Linked DNA regions of Homo sapiens: region 1 is reported to be linked to region 2. Evidence: microRNA targets listed by miRTarBase, many of them from high-throughput screens and not tested one by one. Region 2 holds a microRNA gene; the other region holds the end of a gene's coding sequence.

Region 1 (7,642 bases), not on the chromosome of region 2:
AGCCATAAGGTGGGTTGATTACACAATGCCTTGTACATGATATAGAGGCATCAAGCAAGTAAAATTTGACAGAAATTTTAAAATATGAAGATGTATAGCTTTCCCAAGATGATGGTAAAACCCAGGTTAGTCATCAGTAACCTTCTCTATTATTATTATTTTTTAGAAACTTGGAATACTGTCGTCATGGCTAAGAGAACAAATCTGATAAATTGTGTAACCTAGTCTCTTCTCTACATGGTGATGCATTTCAGCAATTATAAATTAATATAAATGACCAAAAGTAACTTAAAAGCATGAGATATTTGCTATTTCATTCATTGGGCACATATCAAATTATAATTTTGATTTTAAATGGTCACCCATGTATTTATTTGTTGCCAAGCAAGTAAAAAAATACCCTAACAAACCTGATGTGGGTGGGAGGGGCATGTCAGTAAGTGGTGTGTTCAATGTGTTTGTTTCATATGGGCCCTTTCCAGGAGTTTGCAAACCTTGTCATACCCATATGCAAAACTGTGTTTCCTTGCATTAAACCAGTGAAGTTTGGGTTCTCTTTTGTGCTATCAATCAGTTGTAAAATCAGAGCTGCTTATATATTCTACTGGAATAACTGCATCTTCCACTCAGTCACTACAAAAAAGCATAGTTTCAGTTTGCATGAATTTTTTTTTTTTTCTTCAATGGCTGTGCAGATAAGGATCCATTTCTGGGATAGAATTGTATTTTTTAAGTCATTTTTTTTTCTTGAAATGGATATGTACAAATAAAATAAATGGAAGACAGGATAACTCTTTTTCTATTTATTTGTAACTCACATCATTCTGGAAAGCATTTGAAGCCTTATTCCAAACAGAATTAGAAGCGAACACAGAAATAGTCAAGATGATTTACGATACGCTTATATGGTTTTAATTTTAGCTATAGATCAGTTTTGAGTTATTACAGAGAGAACTCAATGTATTCATGATACATGGTAACTGTCATATTTCCTCTTTCTCTAGCACTCATTCTGAAACAGAAATGTTAGTGTTTGCTAAAGAAGAAATTAAATTTCTTTGGTTACAGTTACGCCTCTATTAACAAAAAGGGGCATGTTCCCATAACTCCCAACAGTTGTCAAATACTTTAATACTACCCCAAGTTGTCACACTCTCTATCGGGGAGCATAATAAGTACCTGAGCAAACTGGAAAAAAAAAAGGTTACAGGATGAAAATCATCAGTTGTGCCAGAAAACATAAAATGACTCTTTGTAGGGATTGACATTCTTGAAACACATACCATATACTGGCAGACACAGTCCATGCCCAGCACAGCTCTGACTGCACAGGTAAGGAAAATGAGACAGCAGAGGGGCAGAAAGGTCCAGCCATCTTTTACAGGCTTCTACGGCTGTAGCTGACAGCCACCTTGAAAAATTTAGCAAGGGTAAATGGCTTTGCCCCTGAAGAGTATCTAGAAGTGCAAATCAACTCTTCTCTAGAACACATTACTGATTTGAATGGCTTGAAATGATATCACTACTTTAAAGTCATAAGATTTTAATACTGGAAAAGACCTTAGAGGTCTCTGTCTAGCGAAAGACCTGTGTGTATGTAGAAGACATCAGAACACAATCTAAACTCCTTTACAATGATGTGTTTTCAAGGCCACATCTGAGCTGGCTTGTGCCCTCTTCGACGCCATCAACTACTACTCTCCTCTTGCTCATTTGGCTTAAGCTACTCTGGCCATCTTAATGTTGCCAGAACAAGCCACGGTCTACTGGCTCAGGGCCCGTGTGCTACTGCTATCCTTCTGCCCCTTCCTACAGATTATTCATGCAGCAAATTCCCTTGCTCTATTCTGGTTTCTATTTGAATTTACCCTGGCCAATAGAGGATTTCTTTGCTTATTCCATCTAAAATGGCAGACTATTCCCCATTCTCCCATTATTATTTTTCTCTGAGCATTACTTATCTTCAAAGCATTTATCCCTGCCTGAATTGAAGTAATAGTTTTTATTTACTTACTTATTGCTGGTCTTCTGCATTAGATTATAACCTCCATAAGGACACGGCTTGGTATCTCCAGTCCCACACACAGTAATTATTATTGAGAGCTAACATATTTAACATACTCTCTGCACCTCCAGTTTTCTCATGTATACAATGGAGAACATAATAGTAATGAACCTCATAGAGGAACTGAGGATTAAACAAAAGTTAGTAAGACACACGAATCATTTACTAGCTCCTAATGTGCAATGAAAGGTAGTTCTTTGTCAACACTTACTGAGTGCTTCACTTCCACAACTGGGACTAAGACCCAGAATTTTCACTCCAGTGTCCTTTCCATTACCTTGCTTTTTTTTTTTTTTTTTTTTGAGACAGCGTTCTCCCCCAGGCTATTATGCCATGGCACCATCTCGGCTTACTGCAGCCTCAACGTCCCAAGTTCAGGTGATTCCCCCAAACTCAGCCTCCCGAGTAGCTGAGACTACAGCCACGTGCCACCATGCCCATTTGTTTGTATTTTAAGTAAAGACAGGGTTTTGCCATGTTGCCCAGGCTGGTCTCAAACTCCTGGGCTCAAGCAATCTACCTGCCTCGGCTTCCCAAAGTGTTGGGATTACAGACGTGAGCCACCATGCCCAGCCCCATTACACTACTCTTAAAAACATGGAAGAGAATCAAGATACACAGCCTATCTAGGGTCCCACAGAGAACCAAAACCACCTCTGCCACCCAGGGTTGAATCACAGCCTTTGGGTAAGATAGAGTCCAATTCCCCTGTCCTCTCACAGAACTGTCAAGATGACCTTCTGATGCAAGGCCTCTAAGGATCTCACAGACACACTCAATCATAGGTGGTGTCTCTCAAGTTCCTGGAGGAAAAAAATGTAAACTCACCAAAATGTTGGTCATACAACCAACACATATTTATTGAGAATCTATTAAATGCCAGGCCCTAGAGATACAGACAGACATGGATCGTCTCTGTTCTCATGGAGCTAAATGTATTATAACTCTGAAAACTCTAGTTAACTAGCTACATTAACTGTAGAAAAAAAAAGTTGTATCTTTTTTCTGGGATCATATAAATAGAAGAACATTTTTCATCAAGAAATAAAAACAGTTTACAGCCTAAACAGAACAATGTCTTCATAAGCTTGTGGAAAACCCTACTGAAATCTGAAGACTTCCAATCCCATCCAGTGCATCTATAGATGAACAACAGGCTTCAAACTTCAATATCCACAATAAGAAATAGTTTTATATAGCACACAACACATATTTATGATTGAAAAAGACATTTCACAAAACAATATTTATCTTTATTACATGTGATGTACCATTTTCTCTATTCCATTTTTTCAAATGTTCATACCTAGTAAATTTTTGTGTTCTGTGAATCAATTTAAACAAAAAGGGGAAGGGGGGAAAACAGACAAGGCATACTATTAGGTTAAGTGAGAAGCACCCAACATGCATAGAAGAAAATCCTACCCAAGGCAGGAAACACAAGCCTTAGTCCCAGCTTTGCCTGAGACTTTGCAAGCCTGGACATATGCTCAGGTTTGTACTCTTAGGAAGCACACCACATCAGGAAAACAGAATGTAAGGCAACATCTGCACACCTCCACTCCTAACACCTAGTGTTGCCTGACACAAGGGGAAATTCCTGCTCAGGAAACAGGATAGTAAGGCAGACGCTGACTCTGAAGTAATCTGCCTAGGTTAAAATCCAAGCATGACCACTTTACTAACTATACGACCTTGGGCAGGTTAATTAACTTCTCTCTGGCGAGATTTCCTCATATGACAACAGGATAATAAATGACCCTGCCTCATAGAGTTGTTAAGAATTAGTTATCATATGCTTGCTTGGCACATAGTAAACACTGTATCAGTGTTTTCTATTATTATGCATCACACAAAAGGAAACCTCCTCTACCTAAATCTTACAACAATGGTTTTAGATATTAAAAGTTTCTTAAGATGTGCAAATAACTTGAGCACAATATATCAGGAAATAGATCTTATCTACTGAATACCACTGAATAAGCAATGCTTTAGCAAGTAGGTCTTTTACAGTCTGTTTTAGCTTACAGTCCAATAATTCTATGTAGGCAGATGGTAGCCTACCGGCAAATGACAGCTCTGCCCATTATTCCTGCAACTCTCAAATTAAAACAATAACAAAACACTACCTACTACTATCTGAACTTCAGGGCCTTTTAAAGCCATGGGGGCTGTTTCCTTGGAGCTGAAAAATGCAAAACAAACACATCTTCTGCTCAAGCCGAAAAATCTTCTTAACTCAAAAATCTCAAAAAATGTTTGCCCTAGAAAAATGCATTCAAATGGTTTGTCTATTCCATTTATATAACAATTGTATCACTCATATCCCTCTTCCAAAGCATACATCATACTTTATGGAATTTTTGAATGGATCTGAATGGCTTTCCAAAACTAACTGGTATTATTTCTACACAAACATAGAAGTTACCATCAAGCATTACTATCTTGCCTAATTACAAGTTGAAGGCAGATCTTCTGGCATATTCACAAAACATTTAATATAAAAACGCCCAGAATGCTAATGATTCCCCTCTTCACCCACTAATAATTCCAGGGTGAGAAGTTAAGCTCAAGTCCATTTACTTTCCTTCTGTTATGATATATTATATCTATATCATCAGTGATCTTTAATCAATATATTACTTTAAAATTCTCATATTTCTATATTTAAAATTCTATTACTTTTCTCAATTAAAAAAAATTCAGGGTATGATTTTAGTACCCTGCTATGTACTGAAGAGAACTAGTAAATAATGTTCCCTTGATTTAAAATAGGAAAAAACAGGTGATTCTAAAAATTGGGTCAAATATAACAATCAATCTTAGAATATTTATACTATCTTTTCCTATAGTTAATAGTAATTTCCAGGAAACAAGGTGATTTTTCAAAAGCCATCTGTTTAAATACATGGGGGCTTATCTTCATGAGACACAACTAGAAAAAAAATTTTCAACTTTAGTTTTCACACCTGAGCATTAATAATTGCCTTTTTCTTTAACCATGGTCCGTGTTTCCTTTTTGTAAGCTAGTTTAATTTAGTGTTTCAGCACACACTGAGTAAAAATCTTTACCATTTTTTACAGGGTTGCTTAAGATCACCCTCTTTTCCATAATACATTCCTTATTCTTCATAAATGACAGAAAGAAAACTCTTAAATATGTGAAGCAAACCATTTTAAAAAATACCAATTTCTGGTTTTAACACTGGTAAAAAAAAAAATCCAAAATCTAACCAAAAGGAAGTCACAACAAGCATTCTATAATATAAACAGACAGTATCCACATAGTTTATTTCTCACAGTTCTCCTGACAAATGAACATCATTCAAGAACATACTGTATACACAGATAAGAAGAAACATACAAAATGTTTTAAATGATGCACAACAAAATCCAGCAGTATAAAAGAATGCATGTGAACCCTTGCTCACTGTGCAGACTAAATTTAATCACTTGTTTAAATAGTAATAAAAATACAATCTTTTATGGATCTTGTGCAGACTACAAAAGAGGGAAATTATTACCATATATATGATTTTTATATTAGGCAGTTTTCTTTGATGAGTTGTACTGACAACTCCAAATACAGAGGCAGAAGGCTGTGTATTTTAAAGGAATTAATGTTGTGAATTAGAAACTTTACACAGTTACTACCACTGGCACTTTTCACCATAGTTTGTACACATCACATGATCATCTTATATAACATTACATTTAAAAAATATATCTGAGTGACAATTTTATAACATTCACACACCATGAGCTGGTTAAGGAAGCAATGCCACAGTTGCCTCCTGTAGTGCTTCACTGTTGGTAATTAAGGACAATTCATTGTGGTTAAAAGAAATTAGATATCAATATGATTAAGCAGCTCCAATTTACTAAAGGCCATCAATGACCACCACTGGGACAGTGAGTTCTTTTAAAGTGTATATCCTAGAAGCAAACACCATCATTGGTTAAAACTTTGTCTAAAGAAGTCAGTTTCTGTGCTGAAAACTATTTTCACAAAACTGAAGGCTACTAAACTGTTTTAATATAAATACTTTGTCTTCTCATTATCATATTTATGACCAAGTTCTTTGAAACCTTTGGAATTTACTCTCTCTTTAATGTGTGCTCTCGTTCCATCTCACCCATTTAAGATCACCACCTAAAACGCAGTGGTGAAAAATTCACCAGGGAAACCTTTGCTCACCAGGAATGTTCAGCTGCTGAACAGTGATCTAGAGCCACAACGGTGCAGAGCTGTACTTGACGAGAACACTCAGGAAGCTCTCATGCTGTGAGTGTCATTTCTGGGAAAGCAGAGAATCTTTCCAAACTGTGCACATAATTAACAATGATACCATTGCTATGTGTTGAAGAGGACTAGTAAATGATGTTCTCTTCCATGTCATCTGTTTGCTGGAAAGTAGTTTGGGTCAAGGTAATTGTAACTGGTGCCCTGAGACACACAGTAGTCTCTGTCTAAGAATGTCTCTGACCTATAAATAGGTTCTAATTGGTGATCTTCCTTGTGAATATCTGTTTCATGTAGACTGTAAAGAAAAAAAGACACACATCATTACATGGTAGTGGATGCATTTTAGTCTGTGTATTACAAAGCTTCCTCACAGCTCTCCCTGTTTAAATCCATTAATCTATCAAAATCTCCAACGGAAAGTTACTTGACATGTGGTATGATTACAGAAAAAAATTAATTGCCTAGAACAACAAAATTTAATTCACTAAGTGTGGGTATTAATATTTTCTATGTTTGGAAATCAAATTCACTAATGGCTGAGAAGCTCTTTTCTTGTCTAAGTTGAAGACTGACAATGAAGAAAACACTTACCAGTCTGAACAAGAATCACAGAAATCCAAAGACATTTCTGGAGGACAATCCTGGCAATGCCACCGAACACCCTGGATGGGTTCTATGCCACAGTTATCACACTATAACAGATTCAGAGAGAAAATGTATTAAGTTATACTGTTCCACGATCTTTTTTATTTTCCACAAGGAAACACATGATGTGCACACAGACATCTTCTCTTCTCTCTCCATGCACAGGACAGTAATATAACACACAAATGGTTATGTGTTAGAGACAATTTCTAGCAAACTAGGTAAAATTCCATCCACTCAATATCAAGATATGGGTGAGTGAGAGGAACATTGGAAGGGATAATCTTCAATCAGCTTAAATTTATTTAAAAATTTTTAAAAGTAAATCATCTCCAACTTGGGTGTTTTGTTATTTGTAATCATCTACTTGAAAGGTACCTCAGACCACTGTATGATGACTATGGTTGAGAAACAGAGAGTTAATACCATAGTTAAAACTATCCAAATACTGGTTAAGGAAGCAATGCCACAGCTGCCTCCTGTAGTGCTTCACTGTTGGTAATTGATACAGAATTGTTTTAGCAGGTTCTCTTGGCTAACATAAACCCAGGCAACAATGAAATTCTGTCTAAACTTTTATCTCTTATTGAATCGCTCTCCCAAAGCCTAAAGACTCCTAATAACCAATGCCCATCATGTCAAAAAGGCAGATCTAGCTCTTTCTCAGCGTGGTGGCATTGTGACAG
Region 2 (8,484 bases):
AGTGAAGAAGCTGCAAAACCAAGATGGTGACAAGAGTGACCTCTGGTCATCCTCATTGCTACACTCCCACCAGTGCCATGACAGTTTACAGATGCCATGGCAACATTAGAAAGTTACCCTGTATGATCTAAAAAGGGGAGGCATGAATAATCCACCCCTTGTTTAGCATATAATCAAGAAATAAGCATAAAAATGGACAACCAACAGCCCTTGGGGCTGCTCGGCCTATGGAGTAGCCATTCTTTTATTCCTTTACTTTCTTAATAAACTTGTTTTCACTTTACTCTATGGACTCACCCCCAATTCCTTCTTGTGTGAGATCCAGGAACCCACTCTTGGGATCTGGATCGGGACCCCTTTCCAGTAACAGTTGGCTAAGGAGATCAGAAGTAGGCAAAACTCTATCAAGAAAATCAGGATGTTTTCTCCAGAAGGCAGCACTGAACTATGACTATAAATTTAGTAAGATAGAATGCAGTTGATGATAACGCAGTCCTTCCGGAGAAATACAGGGTGAAGAAAAGGAGACAGTGAACCAAGGCATAGACAAGGAAGATCTAAGGAGCTAGGTGATGTCAGTGCCCATCCAGACTCCAACTAGAGAAAGGGAATGAAAATGAAAATAGTTGTTTGTTCCCTGTAGCGCATGTTCCATGCTAGGTGATGGAGCCTCATTCTGAGAAATTTTCATGCCACGAATCACTCAAATCATACAGCTAATTACCCTTGCTCAATCTCACTTCCTTCCAGACACTTTTGATTATAAGTTGGCTTCCCATAGAGCTCTCCCTTCAGGAGTGAATGTTCTGGTCCTGTCTATGGAGTTCTCCATATTTGGTTTAGTTTGAACCCATGTCAGATCTGTTTGCTGTGTGCTAACCAAATCAAATTTTTCAGCCTTTGCACTGAAGACCAGCATCTGGACTGCAATGACTTCACCTGAGGATATATCATCACTGTGTGTCTCTTTTCAGCGATTTCATACCTCACCTGGAGAATCCCTTACCCATTACACATTTTAATCAAGTAGAGAAAAAAATGAGTAATTGATCCTCATTCTTTTAGTTAAATGGGGCTAGTAAACACTAGTCAGATTAGGAGGGTGAAATTCATTTTTCTTTTATTGTTCAATTCCTAACTTAAACAGATCTCTCTCTTTAAATATAGATGTAGATTTTTCCCTCTGTGGCCAGTAACTTTGTTGAACTATGCTAAGCTGTTTAGAAAGATGGCAAGATGCTTTGTATGTCATTCTATTGCCTTTCAGCATAGATAACTTTGGACAAGTCATTAACTTCTGATTATCAAAAAGATGTGGTAGTCAAATACTCTCATAGCATCACAAAGGGACATAAGTTTAAAAAGCATCTATTTTGAGTAACACACACCTAAAAATAATAGGGGCCGATATTTGAATCAAAGGAAAGGGTATATCTGAATATATCTCATTACTGTGTACTTGAAATGCAGCTTTAAATATAGAATGTTTCTGAGAGTGCTCTTAGGATGAAATTAATAGAAATAAAGTTAATTTCCTGTTTGACTGTCACCATGTGACAATACAAATTAGATGAATTTTCAGCACACTTACAGAGATGTTTAGGATGCTTAGAATACAAGCTAAATCACATACGCAAAATACCCTTGAGGATGCCTTTCAAATAGAGGAGCAGTCATCCTGCAAAGCAGCTGTGATTGGATTACCACAAGCACAGCAGTCCACAAGACTGTCAAAAGGTAAGAACTGTCATGCTGTGGATAGAGAAAAAAGTAGTACTTTTACAACGAACCCCAAACTGAATGACTCAAAGAGAGATGCTATGGAATTACAGGAATTTCTTTGCAACAGAGCTGTTTCTTCTCACACGGGCAATTCTGTGTGGTACATTATATGGGAGTGCCATAGTCAAGATTTTTTTTTTAATTTCACAATGATATGGATTCTTCAAATAACAGTAGAGAGGCTAACAGTGCCATCAACTTCATACCAATACTTCAAGAGCAGTATCCTCAGAATGCTCCAAATAATAACCACTAACACTTATTCAACTAATCCTTATGACTTCCTAATGAAACAAATTGCTATTATTCCTATTTTATAGATGAGAAAACTGAGGCACAGAGATGTTAAGTAACTTGCCCAAGGTCAACTGGTAAGTAATTCAGAATAGTTTGGTTTCAGGGACCCTGCTTGTAACCACTACATTTGAGGCCACACAGTGACTTCATGGAACAACAGTATCCCATGAGATGTTATTAGATATTATATGGAATTGTTAACAGTGCTGTATTAGTCCATTTTCATACTGCTATGAAGAAATACCTGAAACTGGGTAATTTATTTAAAAAAAAAGAGCTTTAATGGACTCACATTTCCATATGGCTGGGGTGGGGGTCCTCACAATCATGGTGGAAGGCAAAGGAGGAACAAAGGCACGTCTTACATGGTGGCAGGCAAAAGAGCGAGTGCAGGGTAACTGCCCTTTATTAAACCATCATATCTCGTGAGACTTATTCACTATCACCAGAACAGTATGGGAAAACCCGTCCCCATGATTCCATGATTCAATTACCTCCCACCAGGTCCCTCCCACAACACGTGGGGATTGTGGGAGCTACAATTCAAGAGATTAGGGTGGGGACACAGCCAAACCATATCAAGTGATGTAGTTCAACAAAAAATTTGGATATGTAGAGTTAAACCAAGTTAAATATTTTTTTTTCTACAGAACTTCTCAGAGTCTTTAATGTCCACTGTGAATTTTCACAGAGCTCTCAGTTTGGAAAAAGGTATTAGGTTGGTGCAAAAGTAATTGCAGTTTTTGCTATTACTTTTAATGGTAAAAACTGCAATTACTTTTACACCAACCTAATATTTAAGATCACTGTTTATTTTCTTGGCATTGTGTATTTTGATATTTTTAAAGAGAAGACTACTTCTACCTTTAAAAATGCTGGCTAAGAGAAAGCCTTAATAAAAATTTCAAAAGAGAAAGATTTGAAAAATAAGTTATAAGATAAAGTTTGTAATAGTCTAAAGTTAGAAACTGTTAGAATCTATTAGAGTTAGAAGCTCTCGAAGCTGGAAAAGAGAGCAATACCGATGTTCAATTTTAAAATGAGGCATTTAAAATAAATATATTGACATGGAAAATATCTAAGTTATATTGCGAGCTGAAAATAGACAAGATAATTATGCTTTTTAATGCAAATGCTTTTAAAACAATGCAGTAGATATATGCATGTACATAATAAATGTAAATGCATAATAAAAGGCACAGGATAATACATATTGATAATGAATCAGGTTGCATATGAAGATGAGAGTTGGATTGTTAGGGGTCAGAGAAGGGATGAAAAGGGACTTATTTCCATATTGTTTATTATTTTGGATGTATTCATGTAACCATATATTATGTCTTTAAAAAATTTTCAAGAACCAATAAGGTGTGGTGACTGACTAGAGTAAGAAGCCAAAGAAAGAAAGAGGCTAAAAATAATGTTAAGAATTGAATCCTAGAAGAAAACAATAGGGAAGATGGAGAATGTGCTGGCTTTTGTGGGAAATAATGGATTTGGGTTTCAGACATGCTGTGAATTAGGTGACACCACCGTGGTTCATCAGCATCATAGTTTTGTGCCTCCAATCTGGCTCTTCTATATGCAATTCCAAAATACAAATTGATAATTGTTGCTTTTATACTGAATACCCTTTGATGTCTTCCCTTTGCTCTTTAAGAGTTCAAGTTGTTTAATATGGTTTACAAAACCCTTCATGATTTGTCCCTTGCTGATCTCTCTCTCTCGTATCTATCCTCTAACCACACTCAAAAGTTCATTCCTCTAAAAAAGCCATAATCTTCCTCACCTCCAGATCTTCCTATTTGTAAGACTCTGCCTGGGATACTTCCCCCATTTCTCCATCTCCTAATTCCTAAGTATCCACAGGGATCTACTTAAATGGCTGACTCCTAGTTTAGCTTAGCTATCTATGATAAACTGAATAATGGCTCCCAGAGAAGTCCACATCCTTATCCCCAGAACCTGTGAATATGTTACCTTAGATGGCAAAACTTTGCAGATGTGATTACGTGAAAGGTCTTGAGATAAAGAGATTAGCCTGGATTAGATGGGTGATCCCAATGTAATCACAATGATCCTTACAAGAGGGAGGTAGTAGAGTTAAAGTCAGAAAAGCAGGTGTGACGACATAAGCAGAGGCTGAGGTGATGGGCTTTGAAGTTGGAGGAACAGCCACAAGCCAAGGAATGCAGATGGCCTCTAGAAGCTGGAAAAGACAAGGAAACAGATTCTCCTGCAGGCTCCAGAAGAAATGCAACCCTGCTAACACCATGATTTTAGTCTCCCAAGACTCATTTTGGACTTTTAACCTTCAGAACTGTAAGATAATACATTGTATTGTTTTAAGACAATATGTTTGTGGTGATTGGCTACAGCAGCAATTGGAAACTCATAGTATCTATCCAATACATTTTCATACTTCTCTTACAGTAACACTGTATCAGTTGGGATAGGCTAATACAGCTTTATTCAAAGTTTGGGTTGCAAACCAGTGCAGGTCTGTAAACTTACTGGTTTGCAATTATATAAGTAAAGAAATTAAGAATAAGCATTTAGAAATTTTTATAGTAATTTGACAGAGTAATTTTAAATCTGTTGAATCTGATGAAAATTTGTACTTGAATGTTTATGTATTTCATGTCTCATTTATCTGCTAATTTACTTAAATTGTATTTTGCAAAAATACTATTCTATCCAGGTTGAAAATAAAAGTAACAAACAACCTGATCCTTCATCACAGACATTTTGAGCAGTACTGGGGTAGACTATGTTGTGACACAAATAACTCGCAAATTGCAACAGCTTGTAACAGCACAGGTTTATTTCATATTTCTTGGCCATGCTATATATCCCTCAAGAATCCAGGCTGTTTAGGGAGCTACCATCTTGAACACTGCCAATTGCCACACCAGAGGGAAAAAAGAGTTCTGAAAGGTTTCATAGTAGGAATTAAATGTCCTGGCCTGGAAGTGAAAAACATTATTTCTACTTACAACTCCTTAAACAGAACTGATGGTCACTTAGCCCTACCCAATTACAAGGGGGCCAGTAAATGGTATCCTGCCATCTGCCTACAAGAGGAAGAAATCGTAAATATTTGGTGAACAATGCTAAGGACTATGCCAAGCACTCATCATGCTGATTTAAAATGCTGATTTTAACCAACATGCATTGGTTTTCCCTGCTAATGTCTAAGCTCTGTGGGATATCTCGTTTTGTCTTGATCAGCCCTGTATTCCTAACACCTCACAACTCCTGGCACCATAGTAGGTATTTGAAAATATTGCCAAATGAATAAATTTATGAATTAAATGCAAAATAAGACATTTGAGAAGTGATGCCTAAAATGAAAATTGGAATATAGCCCCTCACCACAGGGCCTGACAAGCAAAACTAAAGACTCCTCAAAGGGCTTCTGCAATACTTGTATACATCCCATTATTTGCAGTAGAGATTCATAAACATTGTTGGGAACAGTTGATCCCTTAGATAATCAGTGACAACTATAGGCTCTCTACCTCAAAAATATACATATACATTCTAATGACAAAGGGAGGTAATTTCAGGGGTTTATAAACTGTGGTCACCCAAGGGCTTATGGTCCACAGGGTAAGCACTGCTAATACAACATCTTCAGAATAAAAGACTGACTTTGTGTACCCTCTCAAAGTTGGTGTTGGAGAAAGTGTGGGGTAGAGGAAAGGGTATGGGCTTTGGAAACTAATGGAATTAAAATTCTACTCCCTGAGATAATAACATAGATGTGCTACTTTGTCTTTGCATCTCAGTTTATTCATCTGTTAAATGGGCATATTAATATCTACTTCCTGGGTTTGAAGAATATATCATTTGAATATTAAAATGAGTTAATGTATAAAAAGTGTCTAGCACAATGCCTGGCATATAACAGATGCTCAGAAAATTTAGACCCCTCCATCGTTTCTATTCTCAATGAAGTTAAGCAATACGTCATTAAAATGCATCAGTCCAACACAAACCTCCATTCCCTTTGATTCACAAAATACCCAGAGGTCTCTGGCTTCCTAGACTTTCTATTAAGAATTTATAAATCTTAGCAATTCCTTAGAAACATCATAATTTTTAATTAATACCATTATTAATAATACTAATAGTCTTTTTATATGTGATGGCATGCTTGAAGGCTCACAATACAAAGGCAGTGAAAAAAACTCAGGATACAAAATTACTTATGCAGTATGGTCCCAATTATATTAAAAGAAATATATATATATATATATATATATATATATATATATATATATGCACACACATATATGTATTATAGAAGAAAGAATGAGAAAAAATAAGCCAAAATATTAAGTCTATTTCTGGATAGTTATAAATGTATTTTAATATCTTCTTTATAATTTTCTTTATATGTTTTTACAATGAATACATGTTACATATAAAATCAGTTAAAAAAATACAGCAAATGGCATTTCTGTCAAAAATATCTTATAGCCATATTACCTCTGCTTCATATGTCATGATGCACAATGCATATATCCACTGATTATCAATAATTATCATGCTAGGCTACAACACAGGCAAAGAACAGTATGAGTGTCATATAGCTTTGAAGTTAATACATCTAGTTCCTAAAGTGATGTTTAATTCAAAAAGACATGTTCGGTCTGAAGAAAATATAAAACCAAAGAACAGATAGAATGAGTTATAGAGCATATAAATGTTCGTGCAGTAAACACGTATAGAATCATGTGTCAGAAACTATGTTGGGCCAGGCATTGTGGCTCAGGTCTGTAATCCCAGCTCTTTGGGAGGCCGAAGCGGGCGGATCACCTGAGCTCAGGAGTTCGAAACCAGCCTGGGCAATATAATGAGCTCTCATCTCTGCTATAAATAAAAAGTTAGTTGGGCATGGTGGCACACACCTGTAGTCCCAGCTACTTGGGAGGCTGAGGCACCCGGGCTGAGGCACCCTCCACGTGGGAGGTGGAGGGTGCAGTGAGCCAAGAACACGCCACTGCACTCCAGCCTGGGCGACAGAGTGAGACTTTGTCTCAAACAAACAAACAAACAAATAAAAAACAAAAAAAGAAACTGTGCTGGATCTAGGGGATACATTCATGAAGAATGCATAGGTTCTGTTTTCAAGGGGCTTCTCTATTTTCTATTATTTTCTAGTGGAGACAAGCATAAACATAAAATCACAGTTTCATAAATCCCAATTTTGGCTTTGAGAACACAAAGGAAAAAACAATTAGGAAGAAAAAAGTGGTCATTCTAGGTTGTAGAGACAGCAAATGTGAAAAAGTCATAAGAACACACAACTAGTCCAGAAGAAATAGTGACTAACTCCAGGTCTGGGGTCTGGGTTAATATTGGAAAGCTAAGAGAAAGGGGGATGTCAGAGTGGGAGGAATTTGGCATCCAAACAAAGAATATGGACTTTATCCAGTGTTTTTCAAACTGTATCTTCAGGAATGTTTTCTTAGGAAACACAGCGAAAGAGGCTGAGTGGCCAAGCCTGTGGCGCCGACGACTGCTTCAAACAGAGCAGCTCCGTTTTCATCTGTTCTATAAGTTAGATTTCCTGGTAGGATTTTATTTGAAGAAAGAATTCCATGACCTTAAGAAGCCTGAAAACTGTTCTCATGCCATCAAGCTGTTGAAGCTTTAAAGCCAAGGAACAGCGCAATCATATTTGAATTTTTTATTTGTTTTTTGAAAGACCAGCACTCAGTGATTGGATGAAAGACAGGGGAAAGGTCAGGTAGACAAAATGAGGAGGCTCTTGCAGAAGTGCCAGGGAGAGATTAGGAACTAAAGCTGTGTAGTGGGAAGGAAAATAAGAGTCACTTTTGGGACGTTTTAGAATAATCTCAATAAGATCCAGTGACCTCTTCGATGTGGGTGGTATGGAAGAGAAAAGAGAATGACTCTGAGGTTTCCAGCATGGGGAACTGCAAAGGTTTTTAAATTTTAGTGTGCATAAGAATACCTAAGTATATTGTTAAAAATAGATTTCTGGGTGTCTATCTCCAGAGAGCCTGATTCAGTAACACGGGGGTAAAGCCTAGAAATGTTGATGATAATACTGTTCACAGTGATGGAGAGTACAAGACAAAAAACGTTGAAAGAGAAAAAAAAATAATTAATTGCAATTTAGATATGTTGAGGTCCGGATACTTATGGTGCAACAACAAAGGTACTTATGATGCAACAACAAAGACCTGTCCAGAAAGGCATTTAGAATAGGAAACTTCCCATAAACTGTTTATAGCTTATCAGATGTCTATACTAGAGGTATTTAATTGGGAATCATTGGTGCCTCGATGGTGGATGGTGGTTGATGCTGTGCAAGCAAGTGAGATTACCAGGAAGAGAAGTGAAAGGGGCAAAAGATAGAATCATGAGAAG

What was found. The annotated mature microRNA hsa-miR-548aj-5p reads UGCAAAAGUAAUUGCAGUUUUUG and lies in region 2 at 2,803-2,825, shown strand. An mRNA with a match to its seed (bases 2 to 7 or 8) in the 3' UTR can be bound and repressed. Matches are read on the target gene's strand: a 7mer-m8 pairs with bases 2 to 8, a 7mer-A1 pairs with bases 2 to 7 and ends in A, and an 8mer does both.
Region 1: miRTarBase lists ZZZ3 as a target of hsa-miR-548aj-5p. Seed matches in the 3' UTR shown: 7mer-A1 at 4,259-4,265.

What each region holds. Positions count from the first base shown.
Region 1 is chr1:77,559,179-77,566,820 of GRCh38, forward strand. ZZZ3 (zinc finger ZZ-type containing 3) reads right to left here. Exons shown (of 15, transcript NM_015534.6): 14 at 6,903-7,003; 15 at 3,238-6,606. The coding sequence ends at 6,462. AK5 (adenylate kinase 5) reads left to right here. Exons shown (of 14, transcript NM_174858.3): 14 at 1-788. Among named protein-coding and RNA genes, the nearest start is that of ZZZ3, 120 kb to the right of the region's middle.
Region 2 is chrX:38,018,290-38,026,773 of GRCh38, reverse strand. It overlaps MIR548AJ2 (microRNA 548aj-2), which reads left to right and starts at 2,788; the gene lies at 2,788-2,879. All of the region lies in intron 1 of SYTL5 (synaptotagmin like 5), which reads right to left.